Homo sapiens: one gene and its partner. The protein of the gene in region 2 purifies or fractionates together with the protein of the main gene of each other region. This does not show direct contact. Each region holds a gene or a part of one and is shown on either strand. Other genes may lie near its edges.

Region 1 (3,500 bases), about 38 Mb from region 2:
TTGACTGAGAAGTCTGTAAGTGGGGGAAGTAATTATAAACCAAGGGAGATCATTGTCCTGTTTACAAGCCACTTGTTAAGCCACAGACTTTAACATTTCATGTAGGGACCGGGAAACCAAGAGGAACATCAATTTAAAATAGCCAGGGCCAGATCTCAGAGCTAGAAAAGGTCAAAGAGGTATTTTATCTGAGCTCCCTTCCAATGCAGCATTCAGAGCTTGACTTCCTTGGCAGGTGGTTAGATGTGGGCCTTGAAGAGACAGCCCAGACTCCTAAACACAGGGTGATCAGCACTGTTAGTGACATGATCTCACTTCCAGATGGCTAGTTCCCATCTAGCATGATACCCAAATTCTCCTATGATATTGGACACGTTATTTTTATTTTAACTAGCAGAGTATGACTTCAGTGTTCCCTGCCAGATTCGTGCAATCATCCTGGTGTCCCATGTAATGCAGCAAAATGGTGTCAAGTTCATGAAAGCGTAATGAAATGGTAGCTGTAAAGCTAGCCTATATTGGAGTTGCCACCAGGTCCACAGTCTCTGACATGTTTAATATCTGAGCCCTTTGCAATCTTCCTCTGTGAGGAGATGCTGGAGAAGCTCAGGCCTCTTTCTCTTCGCTGGTAATTTCAGTTCTCTCTAGATGAGAATAGCTTAAAGTCTCTAGATTCCAATTGGTTAAAACTCAAATTTTAAGAACAATGCAAAAAGGGGAAACATACCTGAAAAAAATCACTTTGTCACTCTTAAAATTATTTTCTTTCCCTCCCAATGTCTGTTTTGTCACAGCAGAAAATAATTTACCGCAAAGAAGTAGAGGGAAGACCAGAAGGTAAAGTGAATGGTAATTCTTCTTAATCGACTCGGCTCGAGGAGCTTGTGGAATCCCTTTCCAGAAGCTTTACCATCACAGCTCTGTGACTGTCTCCCAGCAATACTGACTGCAGTCATGTGACCTGGCCCAGCCCAGGACTTCTCTCATTACAGCTGCCCCAGATTTGGGCCAATGTCCGTCTACTCTCCTGGTTTTACTGTAAATAAGTATATCCTGTGATGCTCTGTCTTTCCAGGCCATGTGGTATGAAAAGTCTTAACCTCAAAGGTTAAAAGACCCAGGTTCAACTCCTGGCTCTGCTATTTACAAGCATGGAGCAAGTTTTGGACACATAGTGAGTTCCTGGCACACAGTGAGCACCCAAGATATAATATTTTCCCTCTTTTCATCATTTAGTTAATTTCAAGCACTCCCAGATCAGATGTCCTGACCTGTCTGAAGATCAACAATGAGCCAGGAGGTGTGAGCTCAGGCTTCTGGCTTCGCCAGTCCTGACCAGTGGGGACCCATTCTTCTCTTGCTTTTCCCTCCTGTTCACAGCTCATCTTGCATTCCTTTCTCCAGCTTCTCAAGTCCAAATCTCATTTGGGGCTTGTAGCCTCTGATGGGAGCCCCTCTGTCTCTGGACCTTTTTGGGTGCACATATTCTCTCACAAGGCCCCCTACTCTTGCCAGTGTCCTTCGCATTCCTCTCGCCCCACTCCCATAGACCCCTCCACTGTCAGAGCTGTTCAGAAATACCCAGGGGAACAAGGGTGCTGCTGCCGGCTGCCAGTGAGGGCCAGCTCTGGGGCATCGCAACCTGTGGGCTGTTGCTATTACAGTAGGGCCTAAACCTCATGGAAAGACACAGCCATCCAAGCAGTCAACAAAGTGTTTAAAGTCTTAAAATGCTCTTGGAAAAAGAAAAGTTAGATTGTAATCACATGCAACTTATTAGGCCCTCAAGAGGTATGGATTCTGTTATGCCTCCGCTACATTTCCCACCCCTGCGACTCCAGTTCCCTTGTTCCAGCCTCAGAAGGAAGGGCCTAGGACACTTTACAGGGCTGGTGGGCACAGCTTGCAAAAATGGCTGTGGAGCCCACGCACGCTCCACGATCCTACTTGTTATAATACTTGGCCTCGGGCTACCTTTGCTTTGTGCTATTCTGCAGGAAGAGTTTTATCGCTTTGACAAAAGTGTTATTCTTTTATTTATAGTTTCCACAAAGTTAGTCAGACTCTGGGTAATAAATGATAACTGCTTGTGCATAGAAATCATGAGGAGCGTTTGCAGCCAGCTTCGGAAGGCTTTTGGATTCTATTTTTCTGGAACCTTCTCAGCATTCTTCCCTGGCAAATGCTCTGTGAGTGAATGGTGTCAGAGTGCTTTGTTCCCCTTAGGCAAGGAGCACCGTGGCACATTTGACAGTGTGGGGGCTCCTCAGCTCCTCTCTGAGTAGATGTTTGTATGTGGCAAGTGTAAAAGTTGAATAGCAAATGGTTAGAATCAGGAGGAATAACTAGGAAAGTAATGAATGGTGTTTCTGCGGACAATTTATACTCAAATATAGTTACTAAAATGAGACATGTCATGAGACTGGCTATTAGCAAATCAAAGTGTCTTTTCCTAATCTTGGAAAAGATTTATAATCCCCACTTAAAGATTTGCTGATGAACCAAGGGAGGAAAGGTTATCTAATGTGATGGATGACAGAAATGGGATCCCAAAAGATCTTGGCAATTCCAGAGATGGGTTCAAAGTAACAAGACGAAATTTAATAAAATAAGGTTTAAGCTCTAACAAGAGTTACAACAAATAGCTCCTCCATTACAAAATCAGAGACCTGGAAATCTCAGTTTACCTGGGCCAACAGTGTGACATGAGTGCTACTGTGGTCCCAGCCCCATCAATAGAAATACAGTGTCCAAAAAATAGGAGGTCACACTATTCTGGAAGGTGACCAGTATGAGGAACAATCTGGGAACCAGGTAACTTTAGAAATGACTAGAGCAACTGCAGATGTTGAGCTTGAACAGATGGCTGGTGGAGGGGCACTCCTTAGAACATTGCAGGAACAGGCTTCAGTTCACCCTCTAAAGGGCGATTGGGCCTTTTCTGCCAAATTCCACAGGGTGCACCTAGGACTAATGGTTAAAGTCAAAGCAGAGTGAATTTGGTTCCATGTTCAGAAGAATTTTACCATCCTCAGAACCAATTTAAAATAAATTGCATTGCTTTGTACATTAGTGCTCTTGTATTTTGGTCTTGTTAAAGCAGATCTTGGGGATCAGTTGCATCCAATGGGAAATCAAAGTGGGAATATAGAATCCCTGTTTCCTGCCAGCTCCACAAGGATGGTGAGGCAAGTTTAAATACAGACACACACACACACAAACACATAAACACACACACACACTTCCACACACACATATATAACTTCTCTTGAGTCAACACTATTAATATAAGTTTGCATTTGTAAAATGCTTGGTTTTCATTTCATAGATATTTTATTTTTGTGCCAGCAAAAGGGTAGAGAAAGACATTCTTATTCCTAGTTTAAAGATAGAAAAAAAAAACCCCAAGAACTGTTAGTGTCCACTTCTCATGACGCTCTCCCCAGTGAGACCAACACTCACAGATGTGTCACCATGTGGACATTGGTGGTGTTATCGAC
Region 2 (3,500 bases):
TGCGTTTCCCCAGAGCCTCTGCCCATTTTACTGCACCGGGATGCAGCCCTATTTCCAGCGAGGCTGCTTTCCTCCGAGCACACTGCTTCTGAGTTGTTTTCGTAGCTCAAAATGTTCCTTGTGGTGAGCTTTTCTAGGGGCCCTCTGTTTTCTTTTCAGGTGAGAGGGCCGTCATGCCCGTCTCTCCACTAGCCTGTGTACGAATGGTCACATAAATCCCACTGCCAGTGTTTCAGTTGTGGGGACTGTTCAGTTGCCATTTACTGTGGAGAAGGTGTCACTTGCATCCGTTTACTCTGCCTGAGGCCACCTCCCCACTGTTCCTCCGACAGCAGGGGAGAGAAGAGGGTTGTGAAGGAGGCTAGCAAACCAGATGATTGCGTGTATGCATGTGAGGTACTCATTTGGCCACTCAGAAGCTTAAATGACAATAGTTCAATTCGGGAAGGAAACGCAGGGATCCTAATGGACTTTTCTACAGGTCGTGGAGCCTGCCCACATGTGCAAAATTGGGCCCAGAGCTTCAGGGACCCCCTGTGGCAGAGGCAGTAGTCATGCCTTTGCAGTGGTGGTTAGCGTGTGCCCTTTATAAATCAAAACTTCTCTTTTTGTTATTTTCAGGGGTATTTTTTCCGTTTTTTGTGGTTTTTTTTTGAAGGGATGGTCTTGCTCCGTGGCCCAGGCTGGAGTGCAGTGGCATGATCATAGCTCACTACAACCTTGAACCCGTGGGCTCAAGTGATCTTCCTGCCTCATCCTGATAAGTAGCTGGGACCACAGGAACACACCACCAAGCTGGGCTAATTTTTAAATTTTTTTATAGAGACAGGGTCTGGCTATGTTGTCCAGGCTTGTCTTGAACTCCTGGCTTCAAGTGATCCTCCCTCCTTGCCCTCCCAAAGTGCTAGGATTACAAGTTTGAGCCTCTGTGCCTCGTGGGGTACTTTTTAAAGAGGGTAGATAAAAGTACGTCCTTGACCTGCTGCTTTGTTAGGGAGCACTGCACAGAACTAACTCTCAGGATTAGGTATAGCATTCATCTATTCCAATGTATCTGATAAGAGGCTCGGCCCACAAATTTTACGTTGCTATATTCTGGAGCATTCCAAGTAAGTGCTGTCATCATTGTTGTACAAGACTGTGACAGTTTCTGAACTAGAATGACCAAAGCCCAATTCAATAGAAAAATAAGTCCAGCAAAACCTTAGGAGGATATTCTTCGGATCAGGACATTTAAGTGGAATTATCTTGGCTTTTAGCCAGGCTGCTGTATTTTTTATTTTATTTTTATTTATTTTTTTTGAGACGGAGTCTTGCTTTGTCGTGCAGGCTGGAATGCAGTGGCGTGATCTCGGCTCACTGCACCCTCCGCCTCCCAGATTCAAGCAGTTCTCCTGCCTCAGCCTCCGGAGTAGCTGGGATTACAAGTGCCCGCCACCACGCCCAGCTAGTTTTTGAATTTTTAGTAGAGACAGGGTTTCACCATGTTGGCCAGGCTGGTCTTGAACTCCTGACTTCAGGTGATCTGCCCGCCTCGGCTTCCCAAAGTGCTGGGATTACAGGCATGAGCCACCGCGCCCGGCCTGGCCTGTATTTTTTTAAATAGTCAGTGTCAACAGAGAAGCGGACACCTTGTGTTGTGCTGTAACAGAGCAAATTTGGTCGTCCCTGACTCTGCTTTCTGTTCCTTCTCCACCTTCATCAAATGGTGCCTGGGTGACTAGGTGAAAAATGCAAAATCAATCCAGGTAGCTGGCTTTTGTGTGAAAACACAGACAGAAAAGCACTCTTGTTGTCCTTTGACCTCTGATAAACTCAAATACATTTGGAAGTATTCAGAAATTCAGGTGAGCACTTCAGTTATCCAAAGGCCTGGGCTTCTCATAAAACCCAGGCACTTTCTTTTTTTTTTTTTTTTTTTTTCTCTTTAATTATGGTAAATATTTAATGTTTCCTTATAAAATAATTACAGCCTTAATAGAAACAAAACTGTTGAAAGTGTACCTGGATGACAATAATGGTTAAATATACACTTTAATAATTTAAAGTGATGAGTTTTTTTTTTTCACAAAAGTTTAAGGTGGTAATGAAATCATTGGAATCCCTTTTACCAAAGTGAATTTTAAAAATTACATTTTCCCTCTTGCAATCATGTTTGTAGCATAAAGGAGCAATAAATGGGGGCAGGGAGTAAAGCTTGGGAACTAGTCTATGTTAGGCTTGAGTAGTCTAGGGCAATGTCTGATAAAGGAGGGGTTTGAATTTTGGTATGGAAGGCTTTCTTTTTTTTTTTTTTTTTTTTAATCTGTTTTCTTTTTTCTTTTTTTTTTTACTTTTTTTTTTTTTATTATACTTTAAGTTTTAGGGTACATGTGCACATTGTGCAGGTTAGTTACATATGTATACATGTGCCATGCTGGTGTGCTGCACCCACTAACTCGTCATCTAGCATTAGGTATATCTCCCAATGCTATCCCTCCCCACTCCCCCTACTCCTCGACAGTCCCCAGAGTGTGATATTCCCCTTCCTGTGTCCATGTGATCTCATTGTTCAATTCCCACCTATGAGTGAGAATATGCGGTGTTTGGTTTTTTGTTCTTGTGATAGTTTACTGAGAATGATGATTTCCAGTTTCATCCATGTCCCTACAAAGGACATGAACTCATCATTTTTTATGGCTGCATAGTATTCCATGGTGTATATGTGCCACATTTTCTTAATCCAGTCTATCATTGTTGGACATTTGGGTTGGTTCCAAGTCTTTGCTATTGTGAATAATGCCGCAATAAACATACGTGTGCATGTGTCTTTATAGCAGCATGATTTCTAGTCCTTTGGGTATATACCCAGTAATGGGATGGCTGGGTCAAATGGTATTTCTAGTTCTAGATCCCTGAGGAATCGCCACACTGACTTCCACAATGGTTGAACTAGTTTACAGTCCCACCAACAGTGTAAAAGTGTTCCTATTTCTCCACATCCTCTCCAGCACCTGTTGTTTCCTGACTTTTTAATGATTGCCATTCTAACTGATGTGAGATGATATCTCATAGTGGTTTTGATTTGCATTTCTCTGATGGCCAGTGATGGTGAGCATTTTTTCATGTGTTTTTTGGCTGCATAAATGTCTTCTTTTGAGAAGTGTCTGTTCATGTCCTTCGCCCACTTTTTGATGGGGTTGTTTGTTTTTTTCTTGTAAATTTGTTTGAGTTCATTGTAGATTCTGGATATTAGCCCTTTGTCAGATGAGTAGGTTGCAAAAATTTTCTCCCATGTTGTAGGTTGAACCCAGGCACTTTCTTAATGCTGAGGACTTTGGTAAAGCGCTGGTGTGTTCCTTCCCTGCCAGGCTGCCAAGACTGTGTTTTGCTCGAGTGCTCGGAGACAGTCAGACAAGCCGGAGTGCTCGTTGTCAACATATTAATTATGTTCTCTGTTTCCACAGGCTTTTCAGGAGGATTTAATCAGTTGGCATTTATGAGCCTATTTTGAAAATGCT

What was found.
Region 1: the proteins of MTCL1 (region 2) and KATNAL2 purify together in Homo sapiens (tandem affinity purification; one large-scale study listed by IntAct). This does not show direct contact.

The regions. Positions count from the first base shown.
Region 1 is NC_000018.10:47,053,602-47,057,101, forward strand, and holds part of KATNAL2 (katanin p60 ATPase-containing subunit A-like 2), read left to right. Parts: intron 1-794; coding exon 795-837; exon of another isoform or gene 838-849; intron 850-3,500.
Region 2 is NC_000018.10:8,708,556-8,712,055, forward strand, and holds part of MTCL1 (microtubule cross-linking factor 1), read left to right. Parts: intron 1-3,500. UniProt on the Homo sapiens protein: Microtubule-associated factor involved in the late phase of epithelial polarization and microtubule dynamics regulation.